Linked DNA regions of Homo sapiens. The protein of the gene in region 1 interacts with the protein of each later gene in a pairwise test. Each region holds a gene or a part of one and is shown on either strand. Other genes may lie near its edges. The genes, in order: RASSF1, MECP2, DNM2 and SPRED1.

Region 1 (7,883 bases):
GCTACGCGAGATGGGCTCCGAAGGGTGAGGCACCCGGGTCAGGCGGAGTCCCGGAGTCATTGTCCTTGAGTCGGGGAGCTGGGGCCTGACTCGGGGGAGGGGCTGCCCAGTGTGGAGGGGCTCCCAAATGGGGGAGCAGAGCGTTCCGAGACAGGAGTATTACTGCTCCTGAGCCCCCTGTGTCCCCTCAGGATCAGGTTAGGCTTCAGTAGGATCCAGCCCCCATCCCCACTCCTAATGCACACACGTGGACGCACATGCACTTACCCTCTGAGGCAGGTGGAACCAGCAGCATGAGAACCTGGAGAAGCTGAACATGCAAGCCATCCTCGATGCCACAGTCAGCCAGGGCGAGCCCATTCAGGAGCTGCTGGTCACCCATGGGAAGGTACCCCGAGGTCACAGGCAGGGTTCCTGCCTTCCCCCATACCTCACCTACTCTACCCCTCCGGAGTCCCCTGTGTGCCCTTCCCCTCTGGCCTGGTACACCTGTTCTCCCTGAAGGACAAAGAGGAATGTGTTACATGTTTCATTTTGTATCCCTATTGGACAGGACTCTGGCACACCAGGCTGGGTGCAGGGCATGAGTTGATTAGGGAGAAAGCTGTAGGTCCTAGAACAGCTTAGGCTTCAAGGGGAAGGCCCAAATGCTAAAGGCATCTGTGAATTGACTGTAAGGCTGGTGGTGGGGAAGGGGTGGGGAGGGGTTGGGGAGGGCGGGAGGGAGGGGAGATAACCTAACTGGAGGTGGAACTTCGGCATGGAAGGAAGCAGCCTTCCCAACATGAAAGGGGGAAGTTAGAAACCAGGGAGATGCCTGGCTGGAACATGGACCAGGGAGTGTCACCAGCAGATGACCTGAGATATCAATTGACCAAAAAAAAAAAAAAAAAAGCCGGGCATGGTAGCTCATGCCTGTTATCCCAGCATTTTGGGAGGCCAAGACGGGTGGATCATCTGAGGTCAGGAGTTCAAGGCCAGCCTGGCCAACATGGTGAAACCCCACCTCTACTAAAAATACAAAAATTTGCAGAGCATGGTGGTGCACACCTGTAATCCCAGCTACTCGGGAGGCTGAGGCAGGAGAATCGCTTGAACCTGGGAGGCAGAGGTTACAGAGAGCCAAGATCATGCCACTGCACTCCAGCCTGGGTGACAAGAGTGAAACTCCGTCTCAAAAAAAAAAAAAAAAAAAAGAAAGGTCCTTTGCAAAAGAAAGATGGAACTCATACTAGGGGATAGGATAGGAACAGGGCACTGTGAAGGGTCCTGAGTAGGAGTGAGGCCAAGGCACACAAGAGCTTTGGAGGACCACAGACAGGGACTAGAGGGAGGGCATGAGGAGAAGGGCTGGCTTGAAAGGGATGCCTGAATGGGCGGGCAGAGGATAAGGGTGCAGGTGCAGGCAGGGCAAGGCAGTCTGGGAACTGGGCAGGAGCCAGTCACATAAGCATGAGGGACATCCACAGAGGTGTTGGGAGCAGCTGGTAATGAAGGTCCAAGGTGCAAGAGAGAAGTCAGGAAGGATACTCATGGGTCTGGAATAGTTTAGGGGCCCAGCAGTGTTTGGGGATATCAGGGTTGAGCTGAGCCGGGGATGGGAGGGTTGCCAGGCAAAGGTAGGCCCATCTCATCCCTGTCCTTTACCCTACCCTTCAAAGGTCCCAACACTGGTGGAGGAGCTGATCGCAGTGGAGATGTGGAAGCAGAAGGTGTTCCCTGTGTTCTGCAGGGTGGAGGACTTCAAGCCCCAGAACACCTTCCCCATCTACATGGTGGTGAGCTGGGCCCCTGGTTCATACCTCTTCTCACTCCTTCAGAGGGCTCTGGACCGGGGAGGAGAGCTGGTAGCCCCTATCCCTTCCTCAGGCCCTGTCCTTCTCTTTATCTGACAGGTGCACCACGAGGCCTCCATCATCAACCTCTTGGAGACAGTGTTCTTCCACAAGGTGAGGGACTATCTCTGCCCATGGGCCACAGTTCCGGGTCAGGGCCTGGCAGGAAGGGAGATTGTGTCTGTGTGGGGAAGGCATCAGACACAGAAAGTTTCCCTCCTCCTTTTCCCAGGAGGTGTGTGAGTCAGCAGAAGACACTGTCTTGGACTTGGTAGACTATTGCCACCGCAAACTGACCCTGCTGGTGGCCCAGAGTGGCTGTGGTGGCCCCCCTGAGGGGGAGGGATCCCAGGACAGCAACCCCATGCAGGTGGGTTGAGGTTACCTAGGGTTGTGAAAGCCTAGGTCTGGGTTCCCCAAGGCCTGCGCAGGTGAGGGTGGCCCAGCGTGAACACTGTGTGACCTCCCAGGAGCTGCAGAAGCAGGCAGAGCTGATGGAATTTGAGATTGCACTGAAGGCCCTCTCAGTACTACGCTACATCACAGACTGTGTGGACAGGTGAGCAGTCCGACTGGGCCTGGGCCTACTGTGGAGGGCTGGAAGACCGGGCCTGTAGCCTGCCTCTACTCACCTCCTTCACAACGTCCCTGCCCCTAGCCTCTCTCTCAGCACCTTGAGCCGTATGCTTAGCACACACAACCTGCCCTGCCTCCTGGTGGAACTGCTGGAGCATAGTCCCTGGAGCCGGCGGGAAGGAGGTAGGGTCCTCCCCCACCAGCCTAAGCCCCAGGCTACTGCTTCAGGGTATCTTTTTGATAGAGGGGGGCAGCTTGCACACACGAAGACAAACCCTGTCCCCAAGCCCACTGAGGATACCAGGATGCCTCAGCCAAGGTTGGCCTAGACCTGAGCTCTGCAGCAGGCCAGGCCCATGTGTCCACTACTGAGGCTCACCCTGCTCTGGGGTCAGCAGCCCTATAGCCTGGGCAAGTCCTGCAGCCCAGGTTCTCCCATTCCCAGGCAGTGGTCAGTCTCCCAGCCCCCACAGCTGGCTCACTTGAAGAGAATTCAACGTCTGCACCCAGTGTGCTGGTTCCTCTCCCCAGGCAAGCTGCAGCAGTTCGAGGGCAGCCGTTGGCATACTGTGGCCCCCTCAGAGCAGCAAAAGCTGAGCAAGTTGGACGGGCAAGTGTGGATCGCCCTGTACAACCTGCTGCTAAGCCCTGAGGCTCAGGCGCGCTACTGCCTCACAAGTTTTGCCAAGGGACGGCTACTCAAGGTCAGACTCCCTCCGCACCAGCCCCCACAGCCCCAGTACCGCCCTCCCCATCCTACCCCGACTGCGTCCCTGCTGTTTATCTTTGCCCACCCACCTCAACCCCAGTGCTCTTTTCAGTCCTTGGGCCTCAGGTGACACACCAGCTAGTGGGACATGGGCCCCCACAGGCATTCTCAGCCCAACCCAGCCCCTTCCTTTTCCTTGGCCCCCTGGCCAGCACCTGCATCACACTGGCCTCCACTGGACACCCTTGCAGCTTCGGGCCTTCCTCACAGACACACTGCTGGACCAGCTGCCCAACCTGGCCCACTTGCAGAGTTTCCTGGCCCATCTGACCCTAACTGAAACCCAGCCTCCTAAGAAGGACCTGGTGTTGGAACAGGTAGGCACTGGAAAGTTAGCTGCTCAGGACCACTGTCCCACTTTACCAGCACCTTCCTGCCACTCTCCACTTCTCTCTCCTAGATCCCAGAAATCTGGGAGCGGCTGGAGCGAGAAAACAGAGGCAAGTGGCAGGCAATTGCCAAGCACCAGCTCCAGCATGTGTTCAGCCCCTCAGAGCAGGACCTGCGGCTGCAGGCGCGAAGGTAAGGCCTGTGGAAATGGCAGGGAGGGTGGAGGGGATGCAGGAGGCATGGATGTGGGTGGGGTGCCCCCACCTTCCAGGGCCAGTCAGACCTTCCTGACTTTCCCCCAGGTGGGCTGAGACCTACAGGCTGGATGTGCTAGAGGCAGTGGCTCCAGAGCGGCCCCGCTGTGCTTACTGCAGTGCAGAGGCTTCTAAGCGCTGCTCACGATGCCAGAATGAGTGGTATTGCTGCAGGTGAGGGTATCCTAGAACCTTGGACCTCTAAGCCCTACTCCCACATCCCCCACATGCATTGCCATCCTCAATACCCACCTGCCTGCAGGGAGTGCCAAGTCAAGCACTGGGAAAAGCATGGAAAGACTTGTGTCCTGGCAGCCCAGGGTGACAGAGCCAAATGAGGGCTGCAGTTGCTGAGGGCCGACCACCCATGCCAAGGGAATCCACCCAGAATGCACCCCTGAACCTCAAGATCACGGTCCAGCCTCTGCCGGAGCCCCAGTCTCCGCAGTGGAGAGCAGAGCGGGCGGTAAAGCTGCTGACCGATCTCCCTCCTCCTCACCCCAAGTGAAGGCTCGAGACTTCCTGCCCCACCCAGTGGGTAGGCCAAGTGTGTTGCTTCAGCAAACCGGACCAGGAGGGCCAGGGCCGGATGTGGGGACCCTCTTCCTCTAGCACAGTAAAGCTGGCCTCCAGAAACACGGGTATCTCCGCGTGGTGCTTTGCGGTCGCCGTCGTTGTGGCCGTCCGGGGTGGGGTGTGAGGAGGGGACGAAGGAGGGAAGGAAGGGCAAGGCGGGGGGGGCTCTGCGAGAGCGCGCCCAGCCCCGCCTTCGGGCCCCACAGTCCCTGCACCCAGGTTTCCATTGCGCGGCTCTCCTCAGCTCCTTCCCGCCGCCCAGTCTGGATCCTGGGGGAGGCGCTGAAGTCGGGGCCCGCCCTGTGGCCCCGCCCGGCCCGCGCTTGCTAGCGCCCAAAGCCAGCGAAGCACGGGCCCAACCGGGCCATGTCGGGGGAGCCTGAGCTCATTGAGCTGCGGGAGCTGGCACCCGCTGGGCGCGCTGGGAAGGGCCGCACCCGGCTGGAGCGTGCCAACGCGCTGCGCATCGCGCGGGGCACCGCGTGCAACCCCACACGGCAGCTGGTCCCTGGCCGTGGCCACCGCTTCCAGCCCGCGGGGCCCGCCACGCACACGTGGTGCGACCTCTGTGGCGACTTCATCTGGGGCGTCGTGCGCAAAGGCCTGCAGTGCGCGCGTGAGTAGTGGCCCCGCGCGCCTACGAGAGCGGAAGGGGCAGCCAAGGGGCAGCGCAGTCGCCGCGGGTCAAGTCGCGGCAGAGGGGGTCGGCGGGGACAGCTCCCGAGGACTAGGTCCGTTACTTTCGCCCCATCGCTGAAGAGTGCGCGAAAATGGTTTATCCCTTGTCGCACTCCACTCGTATCTGGGCCACAGATGAGCAGAGGTGGCTGCTTATATGTAAAAATACGCTGATTTTAAGTTTCTTATCTTTAAAATGCCTTGGCCCTTCTTGAGAAAGGGTTTGTGCCTACTGTCCTCGGAGTCCATCTTCCCAGGCTTGCCTCTTCTCAAACACTCATGACCCCCTCCAGAACCTTTAGGGTGAAGGGAAATTACCACCTATGGGAGGGAGCCTGGAAAAATTTAGAACCTTTGGTGGGCCCCCTGCAAGCAGGAGTTTTGTTGAGTCTTTATTTAGCAAACACCCTTTTCTGACCCAGTGAATCAGATGCTAAAATATGCACGCAGCCACACACCCAGCAGTCCTTCTGCACCCCTGGGAATCGCCAGCAAGCAAAGGTTGCTCTCCCCTGGGTAGACACCAGCTGGAATCACCAGGGGTGCTTTTACAGTCCTCCCCGCTAGCCTGGATCCCACCGCAGACCTGTTGAATCAACTGCTGGGAGTGGACCCTAGGCATCAGTAAATTTTAAAAACTCCCCAAATTATTGTAACATGGAGTCTGGGTTGAGCATCACTGCTCTGGCCTATTTAGGAACTTGTGGATGGATAGTGTCCCAGGTCTGTGTGTGCATGGAGACCCTCTCATCCGGTACAAGAGGACATCACAAATTCAGCTGGGGGGAGCACAAAGTTGTGACAGAATGCAAAGAATGAACAAGGGGCCGAGCGCGGTGGCTCATGCCTGTAATCCCAGCACTTCGGAAGGCGGAGGCGGGTGGATCACCTGAGGTCAGGAGTTCAAGACCAGCCTGGCCAACATGGTGAAACCTCATGTCTACTAAAAAATAAAAAAAAATGAGCCAGGCGTAGTGGCGGGTGCCTGTAATCCCAGCTACTCGGGAGGCTGAGGTGGGAGAATTGCTTGAACACAGGAGGCGGAGGTTGCAGTGAGCCGAGATCGTGCCACTGCCCTCCAGCCTTGGCGACAGAGTGAGACTCTGTCTCAAAAAAAAAAAAAAAAAAAAAAAGAACAAGGCTGGGACATTGCAGCGTTCTCAAAGAGAAATAAAGTAGCCATGGAGATAAGAAGCAGGATGATTTGGGCATGTTTATCAGAGGTAGAGACAAGGGAGAAATCAAAGATAAGTTTGGGCTTTTGTCTCCAGTAACTGGGAGCCTAGTGGCCATTTTTGCTGCAAAGAGGAAGCTGGGCAAGTGTAGCAGTGAGGCTGAAGAAAAGGGAATTAAATTTTGGCCATGTTCACTTGAAACGTCTTTTAGACATCCTAGTGAAGGTACTGGCACGGAGGATCTAGTCTGAGGGTTTAGGTCAGTGTTTCAGCCGTGGATCTGGGGCAGATGAATGTAGACAGACCAGGCCAGTGATCAGGACTGAGCCCAGACTTCATCGTGAGATATGGAAGTTGAGTCAGAATCTGCAAAGGAGCTGAGCAGGAGCTGCAGGGGGTAGGAGGAAAACTGGGAGAGTGTAGCCCCTGGGAGTCAAAGGGAGCAAGCTTCAAATGATGCTGAGGGGGTGAGAATGGAGAATGGAACACTGGATTCCATTTGGTAGTACACAGATCGCTGAGGACCCTGTCCCGGGCAGTTTCCTGGAGGAAGAGGCAAGCCTGGCTGGAGTGGGTAGAGGGGAGAGTGAAGGCGAAGGATTAGAGTGTATAGAGACCAGTGTCTTGGTCTGAGGGGAGTAGAGACAGGTGACAACCACAGGGCAGACGTAGGTTAAAGGTGTTTAGTTTTTCCTTCAAGTAAATGGGCAGATGTATTCCATATACGTTCCCAGTGAAGGGCCGGGTGCGGTGGCTCAAGCCTGTAGTCCCAGCACTTTGGAAGGCCGAGGCGGGTGGATCACCTGAGATCAGGAGTTTGAGACCAGCCTGGCTAACATGGTGAAACCCCGTCTCTACTAAAAATACAAAAATTAGCTGGGCATGGTGGCGGGCGCCTGTAATCCTAGGTACTCAGGAGGCTGAGGCAGAAGAATCGCTTGAACCCAGGAGGCGGAGGTTGCGGTGAGCCGAAATCGCGCCATTGCACTCCAGCCTGGGTGACAAAAGCAAGACGCAGTTTTTTGTTGTTGTTTTTTTAATTGCCAATGAGGAAAGGGGAAGTTCTGTGCTAGGCGATAGAGATCCAACTGTTGAGCAGGCCTCTCTGCCTGTGGCCTTCCGGCCGGTTTCCAGACGCCCAGGTGGCCAACATTAGAGTCCGCGTAGCAGTGTGAGGTAACCCACTGAGATAGGTCGGGCCTGCGGAGCCTGGCGAGCAGCGGCCCTCTCCCTGGGGCTTCCCTTCAATCTCCGGGACATTTCCCCGACCTGGAGCTCCTCCGCCTCACCGCCAGGCCTCTCTGCAGATTGCAAGTTCACCTGCCACTACCGCTGCCGCGCGCTCGTCTGCCTGGACTGTTGCGGGCCCCGGGACCTGGGCTGGGAACCCGCGGTGGAGCGGGACACGAACGTGGTGAGCGCGGGGCCGAGGGCGTATGGGAAGGGCGAGGATGGGCAGGCCACAGTGCAGGCATTCTCGAGGGCTGCCTGGGTGCCGCGCGCAAGGAGCGTTCTAATTGCCGATTTCCCGGCGGCACAGAGAGGCTAATTCTGCGCGGGGGCTGGGAGGGGAGCCTGGATTGCCGGCTCCGCAAGTACTCCACCCGCTGCAAGCGGACCCGGGCCCAGGCTGACCCAGGCTCCGCGCACGCGCACTTCCCGCACCTTCCCGCCCTCGCCTCCGGCCAGA
Region 2 (7,941 bases), on another chromosome or scaffold:
CATTTAATTCCATGAGAAGGGTGAGCAAAGGATTATCTTGTTGAAACTGATTCCTGGAGAGACTGAGCACCGTACCTGAGTTCAAACTTGGGAATGTTCTAGATGGTGACTCAGGCCCAGGCACCAACCAGCAGAATGGGCCTCAGCCTGACAACCCTTCTGTACCAGGCCTGACTCTTTGGTTGCTGAACTTTGGAGAGGCCTGGGGGGGTCAGCGGCAGGCAGACGAGTGAGTGGCTTTGGTGACAGGTCCTCAGGGGCAGCCAGGCAGTGTGACTCTCGTTCAATAGTAACGTTTGTCAGAGCGTTGTCACCACCATCCGCTCTGCCCTATCTCTGACATTGCTATGGAGAGCCTCTAATTGTTCCTTGTGTCTTTCTGTTTGTCCCCACAGTCCCCAGGGAAAAGCCTTTCGCTCTAAAGTGGAGTTGATTGCGTACTTCGAAAAGGTAGGCGACACATCCCTGGACCCTAATGATTTTGACTTCACGGTAACTGGGAGAGGGAGCCCCTCCCGGCGAGAGCAGAAACCACCTAAGAAGCCCAAATCTCCCAAAGCTCCAGGAACTGGCAGAGGCCGGGGACGCCCCAAAGGGAGCGGCACCACGAGACCCAAGGCGGCCACGTCAGAGGGTGTGCAGGTGAAAAGGGTCCTGGAGAAAAGTCCTGGGAAGCTCCTTGTCAAGATGCCTTTTCAAACTTCGCCAGGGGGCAAGGCTGAGGGGGGTGGGGCCACCACATCCACCCAGGTCATGGTGATCAAACGCCCCGGCAGGAAGCGAAAAGCTGAGGCCGACCCTCAGGCCATTCCCAAGAAACGGGGCCGAAAGCCGGGGAGTGTGGTGGCAGCCGCTGCCGCCGAGGCCAAAAAGAAAGCCGTGAAGGAGTCTTCTATCCGATCTGTGCAGGAGACCGTACTCCCCATCAAGAAGCGCAAGACCCGGGAGACGGTCAGCATCGAGGTCAAGGAAGTGGTGAAGCCCCTGCTGGTGTCCACCCTCGGTGAGAAGAGCGGGAAAGGACTGAAGACCTGTAAGAGCCCTGGGCGGAAAAGCAAGGAGAGCAGCCCCAAGGGGCGCAGCAGCAGCGCCTCCTCACCCCCCAAGAAGGAGCACCACCACCATCACCACCACTCAGAGTCCCCAAAGGCCCCCGTGCCACTGCTCCCACCCCTGCCCCCACCTCCACCTGAGCCCGAGAGCTCCGAGGACCCCACCAGCCCCCCTGAGCCCCAGGACTTGAGCAGCAGCGTCTGCAAAGAGGAGAAGATGCCCAGAGGAGGCTCACTGGAGAGCGACGGCTGCCCCAAGGAGCCAGCTAAGACTCAGCCCGCGGTTGCCACCGCCGCCACGGCCGCAGAAAAGTACAAACACCGAGGGGAGGGAGAGCGCAAAGACATTGTTTCATCCTCCATGCCAAGGCCAAACAGAGAGGAGCCTGTGGACAGCCGGACGCCCGTGACCGAGAGAGTTAGCTGACTTTACACGGAGCGGATTGCAAAGCAAACCAACAAGAATAAAGGCAGCTGTTGTCTCTTCTCCTTATGGGTAGGGCTCTGACAAAGCTTCCCGATTAACTGAAATAAAAAATATTTTTTTTTCTTTCAGTAAACTTAGAGTTTCGTGGCTTCAGGGTGGGAGTAGTTGGAGCATTGGGGATGTTTTTCTTACCGACAAGCACAGTCAGGTTGAAGACCTAACCAGGGCCAGAAGTAGCTTTGCACTTTTCTAAACTAGGCTCCTTCAACAAGGCTTGCTGCAGATACTACTGACCAGACAAGCTGTTGACCAGGCACCTCCCCTCCCGCCCAAACCTTTCCCCCATGTGGTCGTTAGAGACAGAGCGACAGAGCAGTTGAGAGGACACTCCCGTTTTCGGTGCCATCAGTGCCCCGTCTACAGCTCCCCCAGCTCCCCCCACCTCCCCCACTCCCAACCACGTTGGGACAGGGAGGTGTGAGGCAGGAGAGACAGTTGGATTCTTTAGAGAAGATGGATATGACCAGTGGCTATGGCCTGTGCGATCCCACCCGTGGTGGCTCAAGTCTGGCCCCACACCAGCCCCAATCCAAAACTGGCAAGGACGCTTCACAGGACAGGAAAGTGGCACCTGTCTGCTCCAGCTCTGGCATGGCTAGGAGGGGGGAGTCCCTTGAACTACTGGGTGTAGACTGGCCTGAACCACAGGAGAGGATGGCCCAGGGTGAGGTGGCATGGTCCATTCTCAAGGGACGTCCTCCAACGGGTGGCGCTAGAGGCCATGGAGGCAGTAGGACAAGGTGCAGGCAGGCTGGCCTGGGGTCAGGCCGGGCAGAGCACAGCGGGGTGAGAGGGATTCCTAATCACTCAGAGCAGTCTGTGACTTAGTGGACAGGGGAGGGGGCAAAGGGGGAGGAGAAGAAAATGTTCTTCCAGTTACTTTCCAATTCTCCTTTAGGGACAGCTTAGAATTATTTGCACTATTGAGTCTTCATGTTCCCACTTCAAAACAAACAGATGCTCTGAGAGCAAACTGGCTTGAATTGGTGACATTTAGTCCCTCAAGCCACCAGATGTGACAGTGTTGAGAACTACCTGGATTTGTATATATACCTGCGCTTGTTTTAAAGTGGGCTCAGCACATAGGGTTCCCACGAAGCTCCGAAACTCTAAGTGTTTGCTGCAATTTTATAAGGACTTCCTGATTGGTTTCTCTTCTCCCCTTCCATTTCTGCCTTTTGTTCATTTCATCCTTTCACTTCTTTCCCTTCCTCCATCCTCCTCCTTCCTAGTTCATCCCTTCTCTTCCAGGCAGCCGCGGTGCCCAACCACACTTGTCGGCTCCAGTCCCCAGAACTCTGCCTGCCCTTTGTCCTCCTGCTGCCAGTACCAGCCCCACCCTGTTTTGAGCCCTGAGGAGGCCTTGGGCTCTGCTGAGTCCGACCTGGCCTGTCTGTGAAGAGCAAGAGAGCAGCAAGGTCTTGCTCTCCTAGGTAGCCCCCTCTTCCCTGGTAAGAAAAAGCAAAAGGCATTTCCCACCCTGAACAACGAGCCTTTTCACCCTTCTACTCTAGAGAAGTGGACTGGAGGAGCTGGGCCCGATTTGGTAGTTGAGGAAAGCACAGAGGCCTCCTGTGGCCTGCCAGTCATCGAGTGGCCCAACAGGGGCTCCATGCCAGCCGACCTTGACCTCACTCAGAAGTCCAGAGTCTAGCGTAGTGCAGCAGGGCAGTAGCGGTACCAATGCAGAACTCCCAAGACCCGAGCTGGGACCAGTACCTGGGTCCCCAGCCCTTCCTCTGCTCCCCCTTTTCCCTCGGAGTTCTTCTTGAATGGCAATGTTTTGCTTTTGCTCGATGCAGACAGGGGGCCAGAACACCACACATTTCACTGTCTGTCTGGTCCATAGCTGTGGTGTAGGGGCTTAGAGGCATGGGCTTGCTGTGGGTTTTTAATTGATCAGTTTTCATGTGGGATCCCATCTTTTTAACCTCTGTTCAGGAAGTCCTTATCTAGCTGCATATCTTCATCATATTGGTATATCCTTTTCTGTGTTTACAGAGATGTCTCTTATATCTAAATCTGTCCAACTGAGAAGTACCTTATCAAAGTAGCAAATGAGACAGCAGTCTTATGCTTCCAGAAACACCCACAGGCATGTCCCATGTGAGCTGCTGCCATGAACTGTCAAGTGTGTGTTGTCTTGTGTATTTCAGTTATTGTCCCTGGCTTCCTTACTATGGTGTAATCATGAAGGAGTGAAACATCATAGAAACTGTCTAGCACTTCCTTGCCAGTCTTTAGTGATCAGGAACCATAGTTGACAGTTCCAATCAGTAGCTTAAGAAAAAACCGTGTTTGTCTCTTCTGGAATGGTTAGAAGTGAGGGAGTTTGCCCCGTTCTGTTTGTAGAGTCTCATAGTTGGACTTTCTAGCATATATGTGTCCATTTCCTTATGCTGTAAAAGCAAGTCCTGCAACCAAACTCCCATCAGCCCAATCCCTGATCCCTGATCCCTTCCACCTGCTCTGCTGATGACCCCCCCAGCTTCACTTCTGACTCTTCCCCAGGAAGGGAAGGGGGGTCAGAAGAGAGGGTGAGTCCTCCAGAACTCTTCCTCCAAGGACAGAAGGCTCCTGCCCCCATAGTGGCCTCGAACTCCTGGCACTACCAAAGGACACTTATCCACGAGAGCGCAGCATCCGACCAGGTTGTCACTGAGAAGATGTTTATTTTGGTCAGTTGGGTTTTTATGTATTATACTTAGTCAAATGTAATGTGGCTTCTGGAATCATTGTCCAGAGCTGCTTCCCCGTCACCTGGGCGTCATCTGGTCCTGGTAAGAGGAGTGCGTGGCCCACCAGGCCCCCCTGTCACCCATGACAGTTCATTCAGGGCCGATGGGGCAGTCGTGGTTGGGAACACAGCATTTCAAGCGTCACTTTATTTCATTCGGGCCCCACCTGCAGCTCCCTCAAAGAGGCAGTTGCCCAGCCTCTTTCCCTTCCAGTTTATTCCAGAGCTGCCAGTGGGGCCTGAGGCTCCTTAGGGTTTTCTCTCTATTTCCCCCTTTCTTCCTCATTCCCTCGTCTTTCCCAAAGGCATCACGAGTCAGTCGCCTTTCAGCAGGCAGCCTTGGCGGTTTATCGCCCTGGCAGGCAGGGGCCCTGCAGCTCTCATGCTGCCCCTGCCTTGGGGTCAGGTTGACAGGAGGTTGGAGGGAAAGCCTTAAGCTGCAGGATTCTCACCAGCTGTGTCCGGCCCAGTTTTGGGGTGTGACCTCAATTTCAATTTTGTCTGTACTTGAACATTATGAAGATGGGGGCCTCTTTCAGTGAATTTGTGAACAGCAGAATTGACCGACAGCTTTCCAGTACCCATGGGGCTAGGTCATTAAGGCCACATCCACAGTCTCCCCCACCCTTGTTCCAGTTGTTAGTTACTACCTCCTCTCCTGACAATACTGTATGTCGTCGAGCTCCCCCCAGGTCTACCCCTCCCGGCCCTGCCTGCTGGTGGGCTTGTCATAGCCAGTGGGATTGCCGGTCTTGACAGCTCAGTGAGCTGGAGATACTTGGTCACAGCCAGGCGCTAGCACAGCTCCCTTCTGTTGATGCTGTATTCCCATATCAAAAGACACAGGGGACACCCAGAAACGCCACATCCCCCAATCCATCAGTGCCAAACTAGCCAACGGCCCCAGCTTCTCAGCTCGCTGGATGGCGGAAGCTGCTACTCGTGAGCGCCAGTGCGGGTGCAGACAATCTTCTGTTGGGTGGCATCATTCCAGGCCCGAAGCATGAACAGTGCACCTGGGACAGGGAGCAGCCCCAAATTGTCACCTGCTTCTCTGCCCAGCTTTTCATTGCTGTGACAGTGATGGCGAAAGAGGGTAATAACCAGACACAAACTGCCAAGTTGGGTGGAGAAAGGAGTTTCTTTAGCTGACAGAATCTCTGAATTTTAAATCACTTAGTAAGCGGCTCAAGCCCAGGAGGGAGCAGAGGGATACGAGCGGAGTCCCCTGCGCGGGACCATCTGGAATTGGTTTAGCCCAAGTGGAGCCTGACAGCCAGAACTCTGTGTCCCCCGTCTAACCACAGCTCCTTTTCCAGAGCATTCCAGTCAGGCTCTCTGGGCTGACTGGGCCAGGGGAGGTTACAGGTACCAGTTCTTTAAGAAGATCTTTGGGCATATACATTTTTAGCCTGTGTCATTGCCCCAAATGGATTCCTGTTTCAAGTTCACACCTGCAGATTCTAGGACCTGTGTCCTAGACTTCAGGGAGTCAGCTGTTTCTAGAGTTCCTACCATGGAGTGGGTCTGGAGGACCTGCCCGGTGGGGGGGCAGAGCCCTGCTCCCTCCGGGTCTTCCTACTCTTCTCTCTGCTCTGACGGGATTTGTTGATTCTCTCCATTTTGGTGTCTTTCTCTTTTAGATATTGTATCAATCTTTAGAAAAGGCATAGTCTACTTGTTATAAATCGTTAGGATACTGCCTCCCCCAGGGTCTAAAATTACATATTAGAGGGGAAAAGCTGAACACTGAAGTCAGTTCTCAACAATTTAGAAGGAAAACCTAGAAAACATTTGGCAGAAAATTACATTTCGATGTTTTTGAATGAATACGAGCAAGCTTTTACAACAGTGCTGATCTAAAAATACTTAGCACTTGGCCTGAGATGCCTGGTGAGCATTACAGGCAAGGGGAATCTGGAGGTAGCCGACCTGAGGACATGGCTTCTGAACCTGTCTTTTGGGAGTGGTATGGAAGGTGGAGCGTTCACCAGTGACCTGGAAGGCCCAGCACCACCCTCCTTCCCACTCTTCTCATCTTGACAGAGCCTGCCCCAGCGCTGACGTGTCAGGAAAACACCCAGGGAACTAGGAAGGCACTTCTGCCTGAGGGGCAGCCTGCCTTGCCCACTCCTGCTCTGCTCGCCTCGGATCAGCTGAGCCTTCTGAGCTGGCCTCTCACTGCCTCCCCAAGGCCCCCTGCCTGCCCTGTCAGGAGGCAGAAGGAAGCAGGTGTGAGGGCAGTGCAAGGAGGGAGCACAACCCCCAGCTCCCGCTCCGGGCTCCGACTTGTGCACAGGCAGAGCCCAGACCCTGGAGGAAATCCTACCTTTGAATTCAAGAACATTTGGGGAATTTGGAAATCTCTTTGCCCCCAAACCCCCATTCTGTCCTACCTTTAATCAGGTCCTGCTCAGCAGTGAGAGCAGATGAGGTGAAAAGGCCAAGAGGTTTGGCTCCTGCCCACTGATAGCCCCTCTCCCCGCAGTGTTTGTGTGTCAAGTGGCAAAGCTGTTCTTCCTGGTGACCCTGATTATATCCAGTAACACATAGACTGTGCGCATAGGCCTGCTTTGTCTCCTCTATCCTGGGCTTTTGTTTTGCTTTTTAGTTTTGCTTTTAGTTTTTCTGTCCCTTTTATTTAACGCACCGACTAGACACACAAAGCAGTTGAATTTTTATATATATATCTGTATATTGCACAATTATAAACTCATTTTGCTTGTGGCTCCACACACACAAAAAAAGACCTGTTAAAATTATACCTGTTGCTTAATTACAATATTTCTGATAACCATAGCATAGGACAAGGGAAAATAAAAAAAGAAAAAAAAGAAAAAAAAACGACAAATCTGTCTGCTGGTCACTTCTTCTGTCCAAGCAGATTCGTGGTCTTTTCCTCGCTTCTTTCAAGGGCTTTCCTGTGCCAGGTGAAGGAGGCTCCAGGCAGCACCCAGGTTTTGCACTCTTGTTTCTCCCGTGCTTGTGAAAGAGGTCCCAAGGTTCTGGGTGCAGGAGCGCTCCCTTGACCTGCTGAAGTCCGGAACGTAGTCGGCACAGCCTGGTCGCCTTCCACCTCTGGGAGCTGGAGTCCACTGGGGTGGCCTGACTCCCCCAGTCCCCTTCCCGTGACCTGGTCAGGGTGAGCCCATGTGGAGTCAGCCTCGCAGGCCTCCCTGCCAGTAGGGTCCGAGTGTGTTTCATCCTTCCCACTCTGTCGAGCCTGGGGGCTGGAGCGGAGACGGGAGGCCTGGCCTGTCTCGGAACCTGTGAGCTGCACCAGGTAGAACGCCAGGGACCCCAGAATCATGTGCGTCAGTCCAAGGGGTCCCCTCCAGGAGTAGTGAAGACTCCAGAAATGTCCCTTTCTTCTCCCCCATCCTACGAGTAATTGCATTTGCTTTTGTAATTCTTAATGAGCAATATCTGCTAGAGAGTTTAGCTGTAACAGTTCTTTTTGATCATCTTTTTTTAATAATTAGAAACACCAAAAAAATCCAGAAACTTGTTCTTCCAAAGCAGAGAGCATTATAATCACCAGGGCCAAAAGCTTCCCTCCCTGCTGTCATTGCTTCTTCTGAGGCCTGAATCCAAAAGAAAAACAGCCATAGGCCCTTTCAGTGGCCGGGCTACCCGTGAGCCCTTCGGAGGACCAGGGCTGGGGC
Region 3 (7,941 bases), on another chromosome or scaffold:
CTAAGAGCAGCAGCTGCCACCCCTGGGCAGAGAAGACACTGGTCAGATCTTGCACATGTGGCACACGGTGATTCTCCATAAACACTGGCTCTTAACATCATAAATGTCCAGCAGCAGATGAAACTGAAACAGTCATCCAGCTCCCGGTTCAAGCTACGGGTGACGCCACAGGGGAAAATTTCCCACCACCCAGCAGGGACCTAGTTACCAATATTCACAGAAACCCAAAACGCACCCGGAAGCAGGCGTCTTTCCTCTCTTTGCAGTCCTGCTTCAGACGCAGGGCCACATTTTCCCTTTATTCAGATTGTAGCTAATGCCCTATAAATATCTCATTATTGGCTTGGATTTTTCCAAAGCTTTAACACAATAAGGGCTTAATTACAGCTTGTAGTTGGCAATCCCAGTAAATTACGGTTTACATGATGTTCTCACTTTTTTTCAGCAGCCGAGGGGCCTATAATTTCAGCACTTTCATTCAAATCGGGCAGAAGTTTGGCAGATGTGGCTCTGAGCCAAATATAAACGCTGAGAGCGACAGCGAGACAGGGTTCCATTCAAAGGCCAGCCTCTACCGCCTAAGCCAACTCTGAAAACTCTAAATCTAACCTAGGCCGGGTGCCGTGGCTCTTGCCTGTAATCCCAGCACTTTGGGAAGCCGAGGCAGGAGAATCACTTGAGCCCAGGGGTTTGAGACTAGCCTGGGCAAAAAATAATGAGACCCCACCTCTACAAAAAATTTCTTAAAATTAGCTGGGGGTGGTGGCGCACACCTGTGGTCCCAGCTAATTGGGAGGCTGAAGTGGGAAGATCCCTTGAGCCCAGGAAGTTGAGGTTGCTGTGAGCTGTGATCACGCCACTGCATTTCAGCCTAGGCAACAGAGTGAGATCCCGTCTCAAAAAAAAACAAAAAAAGAAAAAGAAAAGAAAAGAAAACCTCCTCTCTAAATCTACAACTGTCCCCAAGGCCATCTTCCGCCCTCATCCAGAAACAATCCAGGTTATTACCAGGGGATTTCAATGTTATGAACCTATCAAGGGCTGTTATCCGTCAATAAGTAACTCTGAAAAAGCACTTGGACAGCCTAGAGCGCAGCTTTGGAGAAATCTGTCTTCCTGATTATAAACCTAATCCCCAAACCAGCAAAAACAAACCAAGAATCACATGGGGAGACGATTCACATGTGGGGTTAGGGCAGAGTATGTCTTTCCGGTCTTTTCACTGAGCAAATACAATCGTTTTAAACAAGACAGGATCCCACAGCCCATTTCATCTGGTACCTAACAGGTCTTGTGCAGCTTTCTGGGTCATTAAAGATTCTTCTAGATCCCTCTGAGTAGCGAGTTGATAGTCGGTTGTCTGGACACGCTTATCTGGCCAAATCCCCTATCATTGGTTTTTGTTTGTTTGTTTGTTTTGAGACAGAGTCTCGCTCTGTTGCCCAGGCTGGAGTGCAGCGGCGCAATCTCGGCTTACCGCAACCTCCGTCCCCCAGGTTCAAGCGATTCTCCGCCTCAGCCTCCCGAATAGCTGGGATTACAGGCGCCTGCCACCACGCCCGGCTAATTTTTGTATTTTTAGTAGAGATGAGGGTTCACCATGTTGGCCAGGCTGGTCTCGAACTCCTGACCTCTGGTGATCCGATGCTGGGCATTTTTTCTCCCATTTCTCATCACCGTACACAAAATGTGTGTAAATAACTCTCACGGCCAATTACTTGTTTGCAGCCATGATTCCCACTTAGAAAGGAACCAGGAACAACTTCTGGTCGATATTTCAGGATCTGGGGAACAGGGCGTGCCTGCATGTCCTGGTCCTGGCTGTATCCCCAGAGCAAGAACATTGCCTGCACTGATAGGCACTCCATTTATATCAACAGAGTAATGATGAGTTCCTTCTCTTTAAGGAAAAAGAAACTAAGGCCGGGTTCGGCGGCTCACACCTGTAATTCCACCACTTTGGGAAGCCAAGGCAGGAGGATCGCTTGGGCCCAGGAGTTTGACACCAAACTGAGCAACAAAGTAAGACCCTGTCTCTAAAAAAAAAAAAATTTTTTTTTTTTGAGGCAGAGTCTCGCTCTGTCGCCCAGGCTGGAGTGCAGTGGCACGATCTCGGCTCACTGCAACCTCCGCCTCCCAGGTTCAAGCGATTCTCCTGCCTCAGCCTCCCGAGCAGCTGGGACTACAGGTGAGAGCCACCACACCCACCTAATTTTTGGATTTTTAGTAGAGACAGGGTTTCACCATGTTGGCCAGGATGGTCTCAATCTCTTGACCCCGTGATCCGCCCGCCTCGGCCTCCCCAAGTGCTGGGAATACAAGTGTGAGCCATCGCTCCCTGCCAAAAAAATTTTTTTGTAATTAGCCAGGTGTGGTGGCTCATGCCTATAGTCCCAGCTACTCAGGAGACTCAGGTGAGAGGACCACCTGAACCCAGGAGTTGGAGGCTGCAGTGAGCCATGATTACGCCACTGTACTCCAGTCTGGGGGACAGAGCAAGAGAAAAGAAACGTACACCTGTCATCAGAGTCCTGATCCCAGATAAAAGGAGACAAAAGCCAACCAACGAGATCACAAATGCTGCCTGTTTCACAACAATTTGCTACGTGATTCTCAGTCCACTCCCAGTAGGCAGAGACCACCATGTTCCCATTTTCCAGATGAGGAAACTGAGGCCCAGAGAAGTGAGGTCACTTTTTTGGTGTGTGGCAGAACCAAGCCTTCCATATTCCCACAGATCCCTCTGGACTGTACCAATTCCAGCAGGCCCAGCACTGCAGACCACCCTAACCGAGCCTTGCATGGCCTTTCCTTTTTTCCTTTTTTTTTTTTTTTTGAGATGGAGTCTCACTCTGTCCCCCAGGCTGGAGTGCAATGGCGTGATCTCCGCTTACTGCAAGTTCCTCCTCCTGGGTTCAAGTGATTCTCCTGCCTCAGCCTCCCAAATAGCTGGGACTAAAGGCATGCGCCACCACACCTGGCTAATTTTTGTATTTTTAGTAGAGATCGGGATTCACTATGTTGGCCAGGCTGGTCTCAAACTCCCAACCTTGTGATCTGCCTGCCTCGGCCTCCCAAAATGCTGGGATTACAGGTGTGAGTCACCATGCCCGGCCATGTATGGCCTTTTCAAGATGCAATTTGTCTTTGCCCAAAAGGAAAGTCACTGGAAACAGAAGATGTCATTTCCAAGTGGCTCTAAACTAATAAGATCTGTTAAAGGGACAAACCAGCCCAAGGAACACATCACGTGCCCCTCCATCTGTCAGGGACAGGAGCCAACGGGCATCCGATGTGCACTGGTGCAGCACCCACTGAGGCACAGGCAGTGCCCCCGCGGCTCATCCACATATCCCTGGAGGGACACATCACCAAAGGCCAAATAAAAACGCAGCTGGAAACGCCAGCATCCCCGGCACAGCTGCTTCTTATTAAAAGAAAAATGGCACGGGGCGCCTACATGCCTGTGGAGTCTGCTTACTGAGAAAACTGAGTTGAAGCTGGAAATCAAAGGAGAGAGCCCTCAGCTTGGCCAGGTCCAGAGGGACAGCAGTAGCGCCACCAGCTTTACTTCCCTCTGCTCAGACAGCCTCCCTGCCCACAATGTTCCTAGAGGCCTGGTCCCACCCTAATATCTCCCAGATCTGATCTCCCTCCACTGGCCTGCTAAACTGGCCTCCGGGCATCCTCCCACATCAGGACCTTTGCACTGGATTCTCTTCCCGTCTCCAGGGGTTCCTTCCTCGCCTCCTTCAAGGCTCTGCTCAAATGTCACCAATTTCCCTATTTAAAATGTACCCCCTCTGGCCAGGCGCAGTGGCTCACGCCTGTTATCCCAGCACTTTGGGAGGCCGAGGCGGGCGGATCACGAAGTCAGGAGATCGAGACCATCCTGGCTAACATGGTGAAACTCCATCTCTACTAAAAATACAAAAAATTAGCCGGGCCTGGTGGCAGGCGCCTGTAATCCCAGCTACTCGGGAGGCTGAGGCAAGAGAATGGCGTGAACCTGGGAGGCGGAGGTTGCAGTGAGCCGAGATCGCGTGACTGCACTCCAGCCTGGAAGACAGAGTGAGACTCCGTCTCAAAGAATAATAATATAATAAAATAAAATGTACCCCCTCCAACTGTGATCTCTCCCTCATCCTGCTCCTTGATCCTTTTTTCCATCATACTTATCGCCTTTTTTTTTTTTTTTGAGACGAGGTCTCGTTCTTCCGCCCAGGCTGGAAGGCAGTAGCGTGATCAGAGCTCACTGCAGCCTTGAAATCCCAGGCTCAAGCCATCCTCCGGCCTCAGCCTCCTGAGTAGCTGGGACTACAGGTGTCACCATGCCCAGCTAATGTTTTTATTTTTTGTAGAGACGGGGTCTATGTTGCCCAGGCTGGTCTCCAACTTCTGGGCTCAAGTGATCCTCCCGCCTGGATCCCAAAGAGCTGAGATTGTGGGCCTGAGCCACTAAGTGGCCCATGCTTCTCCTTTATTTGCTTCCTGCTGAAAGGCCAGCTCCTCCAGAGCAGAAGTTCTGGTAACTTGCTCAGGGCCATGTCCCCAGGCACACAGTAAAAGTACTCAGGAAACATTTTTTAATGAACGAACAACACCTAATGTTTTAAGCACTTCTTCTATGCCAAGCACTCCAAACTGTCTCACTTAATCCCTATTCAAGAAAGGGAAAGAAGTGCTATTATAACTCCTATTTTAAAGAAGACGGGGCTGGGCGCGGTGGCTTACACCTGCAATCCCAGCACCTTGGGAGGCCAAGGCAGGAAGATCACTTGAGGTCAGGAGTTTGGAACCAGCCTGGCCAACATGGCGAAACCCCATCTCTATTAAAAATAGAAAAATTAGCCGGGCACGGTGGCTCACGCCTGTAATCCCAGCACTTTGGGAGGCCATGGCCGGCAGATCACCTGAGGTCGGGAGTTCGAGACCAGCCTGACCAACACGGGAAAACCCCGCCTCTACTAAAAATACAAAATTAGCCAGGCGTGGTGGTGCATGCCTGTAATCCCAGCTACTCAGGAGGCTGAGGCAGGAGAATGGCTTGAAACCAGGAGGGGAGGTTGCGGTGAGCCAAGATCGTGCCATTGCACTCCAGCCTGGGCAACAAGAATGAAACTCCGTCTCAAAAAAAAAAAAAAAAAAATTAGCCAGGTGTGGTGGCTCGCAACTGTAGTCCCAGCTACTCGGGAGGCTGAGACAGGAGAATCACTTGAACTCAGGAGGCGAGATTGCAGTGAGCCGAGATCGCACCACTGCACTCCAGCCTGGGCAACAGAGCCAGACTCCGTCTCAAAAAAAAAAAAGAAAGGGAAAGAAGTGCTATTATAACTTGTATTTTAATGAAGAGGAGGCTGGGCGCAGTGGCTCACACCTGTAATGCCAGCACGTTGGGAGACTGATGCAGGAGGATCATTTGAGGCGAGGAGGTCGAGACCAGCCTGGGCAACACAGCAAGGCCCTGTATCTACAAAAAATGAAAAATTAGCCAAGCGTGGTGGCACGTGCCTGTAGTCCCAGCTACTTAGGAGGCTGAGAGGTAGGAGAATCGCTTGAGCCCAGGAGGTCAAGGCTGCAGTGAGCAGAGATGGTGCCACTGCACTCTAGCCTGGGTGACAGTATAAGACCCTATCTCAGGCCAGGCGCGGTGGCTCACGCCTGTAATCCCAGCACTTTGGGAGGCCGAGGTGGACGGATCACAAGGTCAGAAGATTGAGACCATCCTGGCTAACATGGTGAAACCTCGTCTCTACTAAAAATACAAAAATTAGCCAGGCGTGGTGGCGGGTGCCTGCAGTCCCAGCTACTCGGGAGGCTAGGGTGCGGGAATGCCTAAGGCCTTCCTTCTGGCCAGCCCCTGAGGCTAAATGACAAGGGTCAAGAGGGAGTGATGCCCTCCTTTCTCCTTAGGGCCAAAGTTCTATCTGCTGGTGCACCGCAGACAAGCCAGGGGTCTCAAACTCAAAGGTTCCAGGGCCAGGAGGCTCCAAGCAAAATGATCTAGGCCTGGGTGAGTGCTAGGGAGTAGTGGGGACTGTGGCAGCTGGAGTGGCCACTCTTAGTCTGATGGGACAGTGACTGGTGCTTCTGAAATCGAAGCCATTACTGCCACAAGGGACAAAGGCTCAGCAACGCCAGGTGAAACTGATTACAACAACAGCCACCATGCGTATAAGACACATGCACTCGGCACGCATCACCCAATCACCCATCTAGGCCCCAGGGTACCAGTTACCACCCTCAGCTTACAGAAAAGGAATCTGAGGCCCAGAACGCCAAATCCACGTGGCCGAGTCGCACAGCCAGACATGGTGGAACCAGGCCTTAGGCCCACAGCCTTTGCATGACAACTCAGAACTCTATAGATCTGAGTGTCTTAGAGCCACAAGAAATCCGGATATTGACTGGAAATCTAACACTGGAAAGTCTTATTAAAAACAAAAGCTACGCAGGTAAAACAAAAGACCCAGCAGGCAGGCCTTGGCCCCCAGAGCCAGTGATCTGGACTTCCAGCTATAGGGCTGAACTAACTGGGCTGTTCCCACTCGGACCACATCCTTAGAAAATCCAGGCTCGGCGCAATGGCTCACACCTGTAATCCTAGTGCTTTTAGAGGCAGAGGCAGGAGGATTGCTTGAGCCCTGGAGTTCGAGGCTGCAATGAGCTAGGACTGCACCCCTCCACTCCAACCTCGGCAACAAAGAGAGACCTTATCTCTTACACCCCCCCAAAAAAAAGTAAGCCTTGTTTGAGCCCCTCATACCCAAAGAGAGGCCTTTTTACAACTTTGGCTTTCAGGTACTGAATTAATACTCTTAACGAGGCCAGCCATGGTGGTTCACACCTTTAATGCCAGCATTTTGGGTGGCCGAGGTGGGCGGATCACCTGAGGTCAGGAGTTCAAGACCAGCCTGGCCAACATGGTGAAACCCCATCTCTGCTAAAAATACAAAAATTAGCCGGGTGTGGTAACGCGCGCCTGTAATCCCAGCTACTCGGGAGGCTGAGGTATGAGAATCGCTTGAACATGGGAGGTGGAGGTTGCAGTAAGCTGAGATAACACCACTGCACTCCAGCCTGGGGAACAGAGTGAGACTCGGTGTAAAAATATATATATAATGAGCAACTCCTGCATTGCAGGATTCTAGGAGGTCGCCACAGGAACCAGCTCCATACTGGCCGGCAGCTGCCAGACACCATGGTAGACAGGAGAGAAAGGCAAGGGGTAGAGGGACTGAGGAGAGGTAAGGATGGGAGAGAGACCCAGGTTCCCAACCCAGAACACCTAACTCCTCACTTTACAGCCTCCAGTGAGAGTGTTCTGCTCAGCTATCTGAGCCTCAGTTTCCTGCTCTGTAAAATGGGGATTATAGCAATGCCTCCCTCATAAGGCTTAAGTGTGTAACGTGAAAGCACTTTCATTCTGGTTAGCTTTTGTCCCTGATAGCAAAGGAACCAGCCAGATAAACAACAATAGCCCCATCCATGTAGACCTACTATGTGCCAGGCAGTGCGTTAGGTAAGTAAGCACTTTTTCTTTTCTTTTTTTGAAACCGGATCTGGTTCTGTCACCCAGGCTGGAGGGTAATGGTGCAATCACGGCTCACTGCAGTCTGGACATCCTGGGCTCAAGCAGTCCTCCCAGGGCCAGCCTCCTGAGTTGCTGGGACTACAGGTGTGGGACTACCACCCTACCTGGCTAATTTTTTTATTTTTTGTAGAATGGCATCTTGTCATGTTACCCAGGCTGGTCTTGGAACTCCTGGGGCGAGGCTTGGTGGCTCACACCTGTAATCCCAGCACTCTGGGAGGCCAAGGCATGAGGATCACTTGAGGTAAGTAGTTTGAGACCAGCCTGGCCAACATGGTGAAACCCCGTCTCTACTAAAAATACAAAAATTAGTTGGGCTTGGTGGTAGACGCCTGTAATCCCAGCTA
Region 4 (4,855 bases), on another chromosome or scaffold:
CCTAATTGCACATAGCATCTTGGTTATTATAAATTATTTCCAGGTTAACAGAACCAGTAATTTTGAGAGAATACTAATCTCATTGTGGGAAACATGTTTCAGTAGTAGTCCTGGCCGGGTGCGGTGGCTCATGCCAGTCATCTCAGCACTTTGGGGAGGTCGAAGTAGAAGGATTGCTTGAGCCCAGGAGTTCGAAACTAGCTTGGGTAACACAGCATCACCTTGTCTCTACAAAAAAAGAAAAAAATTAGCTGGGTATGGTGGCAATTGTTGTGGTCCCAGCTACTTGGGAGGCTGAGGTGGAAAGGTTGTTTGAGCCTGGGAGGTCAAGTTTGCAGTGTAATGTGATTGCTCACTGCACTCCAGCCTGGGCACAGAGCGAGACTGTGTCTCCAGAAAAAAAAAAAAAAAAAAAGTAGTCCTGACAATAAATGCAACTTTGGTTCCCAAAAGAGGCTCTGTGGAATAACTGACAGATGAATCGCTCATCATTTGGGGGGGGGGGGGCGGGGGGAGCGGGAGGTCGGAAGAGTACTGTATACACGGCTCATTTTAGAGCATTGTTTCCTACTGCCTCAAGGAGAAGTATTGCTGCTTTGGTGAAAATGAATCCCTCCAATAAAATACCACCAATTGAGCAAAATGAACAATTCCACAAACTGAACTATGTATGTTTTTAGTGCTTCCCATTGGATCAACTCACAACTGGCATATCTTGAAGCATTATCACAATTATCCTCCAATTTAAAAAATTCCCATGCCATACTGTGGATCACGTACCACAACTTAGTGAGATAGGGGGCCCAGAAATGGACAAGGGAGAGTAGAAATTAAGAAATTATTCCTTTATAAAACAAAATTACTCCAGCTTAAAATAATAAATAGAATTTCATTTTAACAGAATGATTATTTTATGAAGTGTATCTGTGACTCCTGTAACAGAAAGCTGAAACTGCATCAGGAAGAAAAGCCTATGCTTTGGAGTCAATTTGTTTCAGACCTGGTGCCTCTGTGTTATCTGGTATTTTGACCTTTTGATGCCCAAATCTCTTCCTTAGAAAAATAAGGAAGATAATACTTACAAGGTTACTTGAGGATTAAAAGTAATCATGTATAAAATACATTATGTAACAAAAATAAAGACAAAAGAAACACTATTTCAACTGTGATTTTGTTAAGACTTTTATTATGAATGTATTTTTTGAACCATCATTTCAGATCTCACTAAAACTGCAAATCTTAGAGCAGTTCAATTTAAAGAGTGACTACAGCTTTCATACCATTGATGTCGATGTCTTTTTCTTTAAGGAGCACTATGTGCATGACACTTATATTGATAGCCAAGCTAGAACCCTAGTTTCAATTTCCTTGTTATAAAAGCTATTCTACTTACTTGTGGGTATTAACTTGATGTGAAGAATGTAAAGCAAATTCTGAAAAACCTGTAAATAAGCACATGAGACTACATTTCATAATTAATGGTAAAGATACAGTTACTCCTTGATTTTTCAAATAAACTATAATATAGTAATCCAACTTATTCTAGTGTTGAGATACACTATAATTTTTTATTACTGTCCTAATAACCTTTCCTTTAGATTATTCGTTATTTTTGGTTATATGGCGAGTTAAGTAAAACGATGAAACTGACTTGAATATAAAAAAATCAGTAGTCCTGGGTTAAACAATTGCCACTTAAGGTCATTAGCTTAGCTGCAACATGTTACCAAACCAATAAATATAACATTATTAGCTTAGAGACTTAAAAAAAAATCTGAATACAATTAAGGATGAATAAATATGTTATTAAGATGAACTATATGTGAACTTTCAGTTTAAAAGTATACTTTTAAAGAACAGAGCTAATTATCAAAAGCTTCCATTTTTACTTTCTCCTCCAGTAATTATCTCTTATGTGATAATTTGATAAGCTCTAGGAGAATAAGAAAAAGTCCTTTTATAATTCATGACAGGTTTAATCAGGTAATTCCAGGAGGGAAAAAAACCATTAAAACAAATTCTTATGATAATCATCTGCTATGTCCAATTACACGGGTATGAAGTAACAGAAATGGTTACAAACTTATAATGTATTATTTACATTATATACTCAAAACTATCAAGCTAGTTAACTATATCTGAGGAGACACATTATGACATGAGTTAAACAGTTTTTCATTGTTCATTAGAAAGAATGCAGTCAAGCTTTTAATGGAAATAATATACAAGTGAGGCACTTTTGAGGTCAGAAATAGAAAGCAAACGACACTACACACTGGAAATGTTCACAAAAATCTATGTGTATTTTTAATACAAAGACTTTTCAACTAGTTTATTCTTGAAAAAATTTCAAAACAACTGATGCAATTTAAGAAGCTTTCAGGAATAATGGCTAACATTTATCAGTGTACCAAAGCATATGAATCTTTTATAACCACCTGGCTGCTAGGCAAACAGTACCTAATACCTTAAAGCCTTTTTTTTTCTTTTGGTTTATATAAATCACCTCCGGTTGTGTTTCTCTCTTAAAGAAATTCATTCTTCATGTTTGTCTCATTGCAAAACACCTCATGGTGCTATTATGATTTATAGACTTTTTTAGTGCAACAATAATGCCAGTTTCTAGTGCTTCCTCTTACACTTTGAAGTGTGAACATGGAAGTCAAATCAAGAATGAGCATAATAATTAGTAAAGAATCCTTGCTTTTCAGGTAACTAAAGTTTTCTAAGTTTTATGTGGAAAAAATGTTACACTTGCTTAATGCACCTTTGGGCTACAATTAAAAACCCAATTTAACACATACTTCCAAGTGTAATCACAAAATCGAATGTAAATTTCAACACAAGAAATATCCTTAAGATTCTTTACATTGACCATTTAGAGGAAAGCACATTTCCTGTACTCTGGAGACTCACGTGCATATTAAGAAACATTTCCGTGCCATTTAATTAAGGGGGCAGGGGAGAGGAAAAAGAAAAGAAAAAGCAAGACTTACCCAAGATATCAGATGGCACTATACACATGAATTGAAAGTGCATTTACATTACTTCAAAAGCTCATTTTAGGCACTGCTGAATAACCAATGAAAATAGGTAGTTTCAAGTTTTTCCCTTTAGATTTTAACCCCACCCCATCATCATTTCAGAAACATACACACGGCTGGGCGCAGTAGCTCATGCCTGTAATCCCAGCACTTTGGGAGGCCGAGGTGGGTGGATCACCTAAGGTCAGGAGTTCAAGACCAGCCTGGCCAACATGGTGAAACCCCATCTCTACTAAAATACCAAAACTTAGCTGGGCATGGTGGTGGGTGCCTGTAATCCCAGCTACTTGGGAGGCTGAGGCAGGAGAATCGCTTGAACCCAGGAGGCGGAGGTTGCAGTGAGCTGAGATCGCACCATTGCACTCCAGCCTGGGCAACAAGAGTGAAACTCCGTCTCAAATAAAAGAGAGAAAAACGTACACACACACTCTCTGAAGCTGTCATGATAAAATACAGGTGTGATTATGTTTTTTCATGTTTTGATTATTATTTTTAAAAATTCTCCCTGACTGGCGGAAGGAGGAAAAAAATACCATTTTGGTAATGGCTTTTGAGAGTTAAAGCAACTGGTTCTATAAATGCCTCAGTACATCCATTAAGTTTGATTGCCAGTCCCAAATATCAACAAATATTTTAAAACAGGATATGTAAGAAAAAAGTGCTTAAAATCTTTCAGCAAGCCAACAAGACACATTAGGTAAATAACCATTTTACAATTCCTTTGAGACAGTTCTTATTCCTGGTTTCCCTGGTAGAGGTGGTCACCACATAAATAGCCCTTTAATGGTAGTAGTGATGAACCCTGTCAGATCCCTATTGCCATCTCATGTCTCTGGCCTGGAAATCATCCAGTAGGTGGTGCTGAAGCTCCACACGACATACTTCTTCAGAAATCAAATGATGTCCCTTTTGAAGCCAAGAGAAATATTTAAGAATTATCAATTCTGAACAAGTTCATCAGACCAGTCTTGCTTGTCATGCCGTCTAGATGATTCCATTTTCAATACTATTACTCAAGCAGTTGTCTTGAGCCATCTGCTTATATCAGATAAAAACAAAGAAAAGTTTTAGAGGAAAAGCCAATTGGCAGTGCCGAATCTGTACAGAGAATGAGAAAATGTTCCTGAAGGTGCCTATACACATGTTTAAGAATCAGTGATTTAAACTACCCATTTGCTTTCACAAAGGAATTCTCATTTACTCAAAAGAAAATTTCCATATAGGGATTCAGAGAACATTATATCATCAGTTAGTCTTGTAGACTGATTAAGAAACTGGGTATGTTAACTATAAAGATCCAAGGTAAAATAAAAACCATTTCATCACCATAGTTTTTAATGAAGAAACTTGTTTAAAATTGTAAAGGAAAAAATGGGAATGGGACGGCAAAATCTTAGCAGCAAAGTGGTTAAACAAATTGAAAATATTAATGCACAAACATTAAAATATTAAAGCATATATGTTGCATATAAAATACAGTACAGAACCAGGAGTTGCACTATACTGATTAGTGCTTAACAGAAGAAATGATTAAATTTGTTCCTCCCAGAAGTATATACACAGTTCATTTCCACAGCATTTTCCTATATAGCCAGCAAGTTATTTTCTTCAGTTATTCACACCTTGATCAAACCTGAATTATAAACTTAGCACTTACAAATATGAAAATTCATTCACAAGGAAAAACAGTATTTCCATTTCACCAATAAAAATTTTGAAAGTTAACAGTCTATTCTAGGAAACCAAGTTTAGCTGAAAACTTCAGGGATGAAGATCATCTGTTGTAGCAGCATTCAAATATATAAACAGTA

What was found.
Region 2: the proteins of RASSF1 (region 1) and MECP2 interact in binary tests that used the Homo sapiens proteins (3 or more experiments, as listed by UniProt).
Region 3: the proteins of RASSF1 (region 1) and DNM2 interact in binary tests that used the Homo sapiens proteins (3 or more experiments, as listed by UniProt).
Region 4: the proteins of RASSF1 (region 1) and SPRED1 interact in binary tests that used the Homo sapiens proteins (3 or more experiments, as listed by UniProt).

What each region holds. Positions count from the first base shown.
Region 1 is NC_000003.12:50,337,629-50,345,511, reverse strand, and holds the start of RASSF1 (ras association domain-containing protein 1), read left to right. Parts: upstream 1-4,675; 5' UTR 4,676-4,706; coding exon 4,707-4,956; intron 4,957-6,305; exon of another isoform or gene 6,306-6,418; intron 6,419-7,211; exon of another isoform or gene 7,212-7,488; coding exon of another isoform or gene 7,489-7,500; coding exon 7,501-7,607; exon of another isoform or gene 7,608-7,883. Other genes in the region: ZMYND10 (zinc finger MYND domain-containing protein 10), read left to right, coding at 1-24, 280-388, 1,662-1,778, 1,896-1,949, 2,068-2,205, 2,306-2,394, 2,494-2,594, 2,943-3,115 and 4 more. UniProt on the Homo sapiens protein: Potential tumor suppressor. Required for death receptor-dependent apoptosis. Mediates activation of STK3/MST2 and STK4/MST1 during Fas-induced apoptosis by preventing their dephosphorylation.
Region 2 is NC_000023.11:154,023,905-154,031,845, reverse strand, and holds part of MECP2 (methyl-CpG-binding protein 2), read left to right. Parts: intron 1-392; exon of another isoform or gene 393-395; coding exon 396-1,479; 3' UTR 1,480-7,941. UniProt on the Homo sapiens protein: Chromosomal protein that binds to methylated DNA. It can bind specifically to a single methyl-CpG pair. It is not influenced by sequences flanking the methyl-CpGs.
Region 3 is NC_000019.10:10,720,341-10,728,281, reverse strand, and holds part of DNM2 (dynamin-2), read right to left. Parts: intron 1-7,941. UniProt on the Homo sapiens protein: Catalyzes the hydrolysis of GTP and utilizes this energy to mediate vesicle scission at plasma membrane during endocytosis and filament remodeling at many actin structures during organization of the actin cytoskeleton.
Region 4 is NC_000015.10:38,353,559-38,358,413, reverse strand, and holds the end of SPRED1 (sprouty-related, EVH1 domain-containing protein 1), read right to left. Parts: 3' UTR 1,165-4,855; downstream 1-1,164. UniProt on the Homo sapiens protein: Tyrosine kinase substrate that inhibits growth-factor-mediated activation of MAP kinase. Negatively regulates hematopoiesis of bone marrow.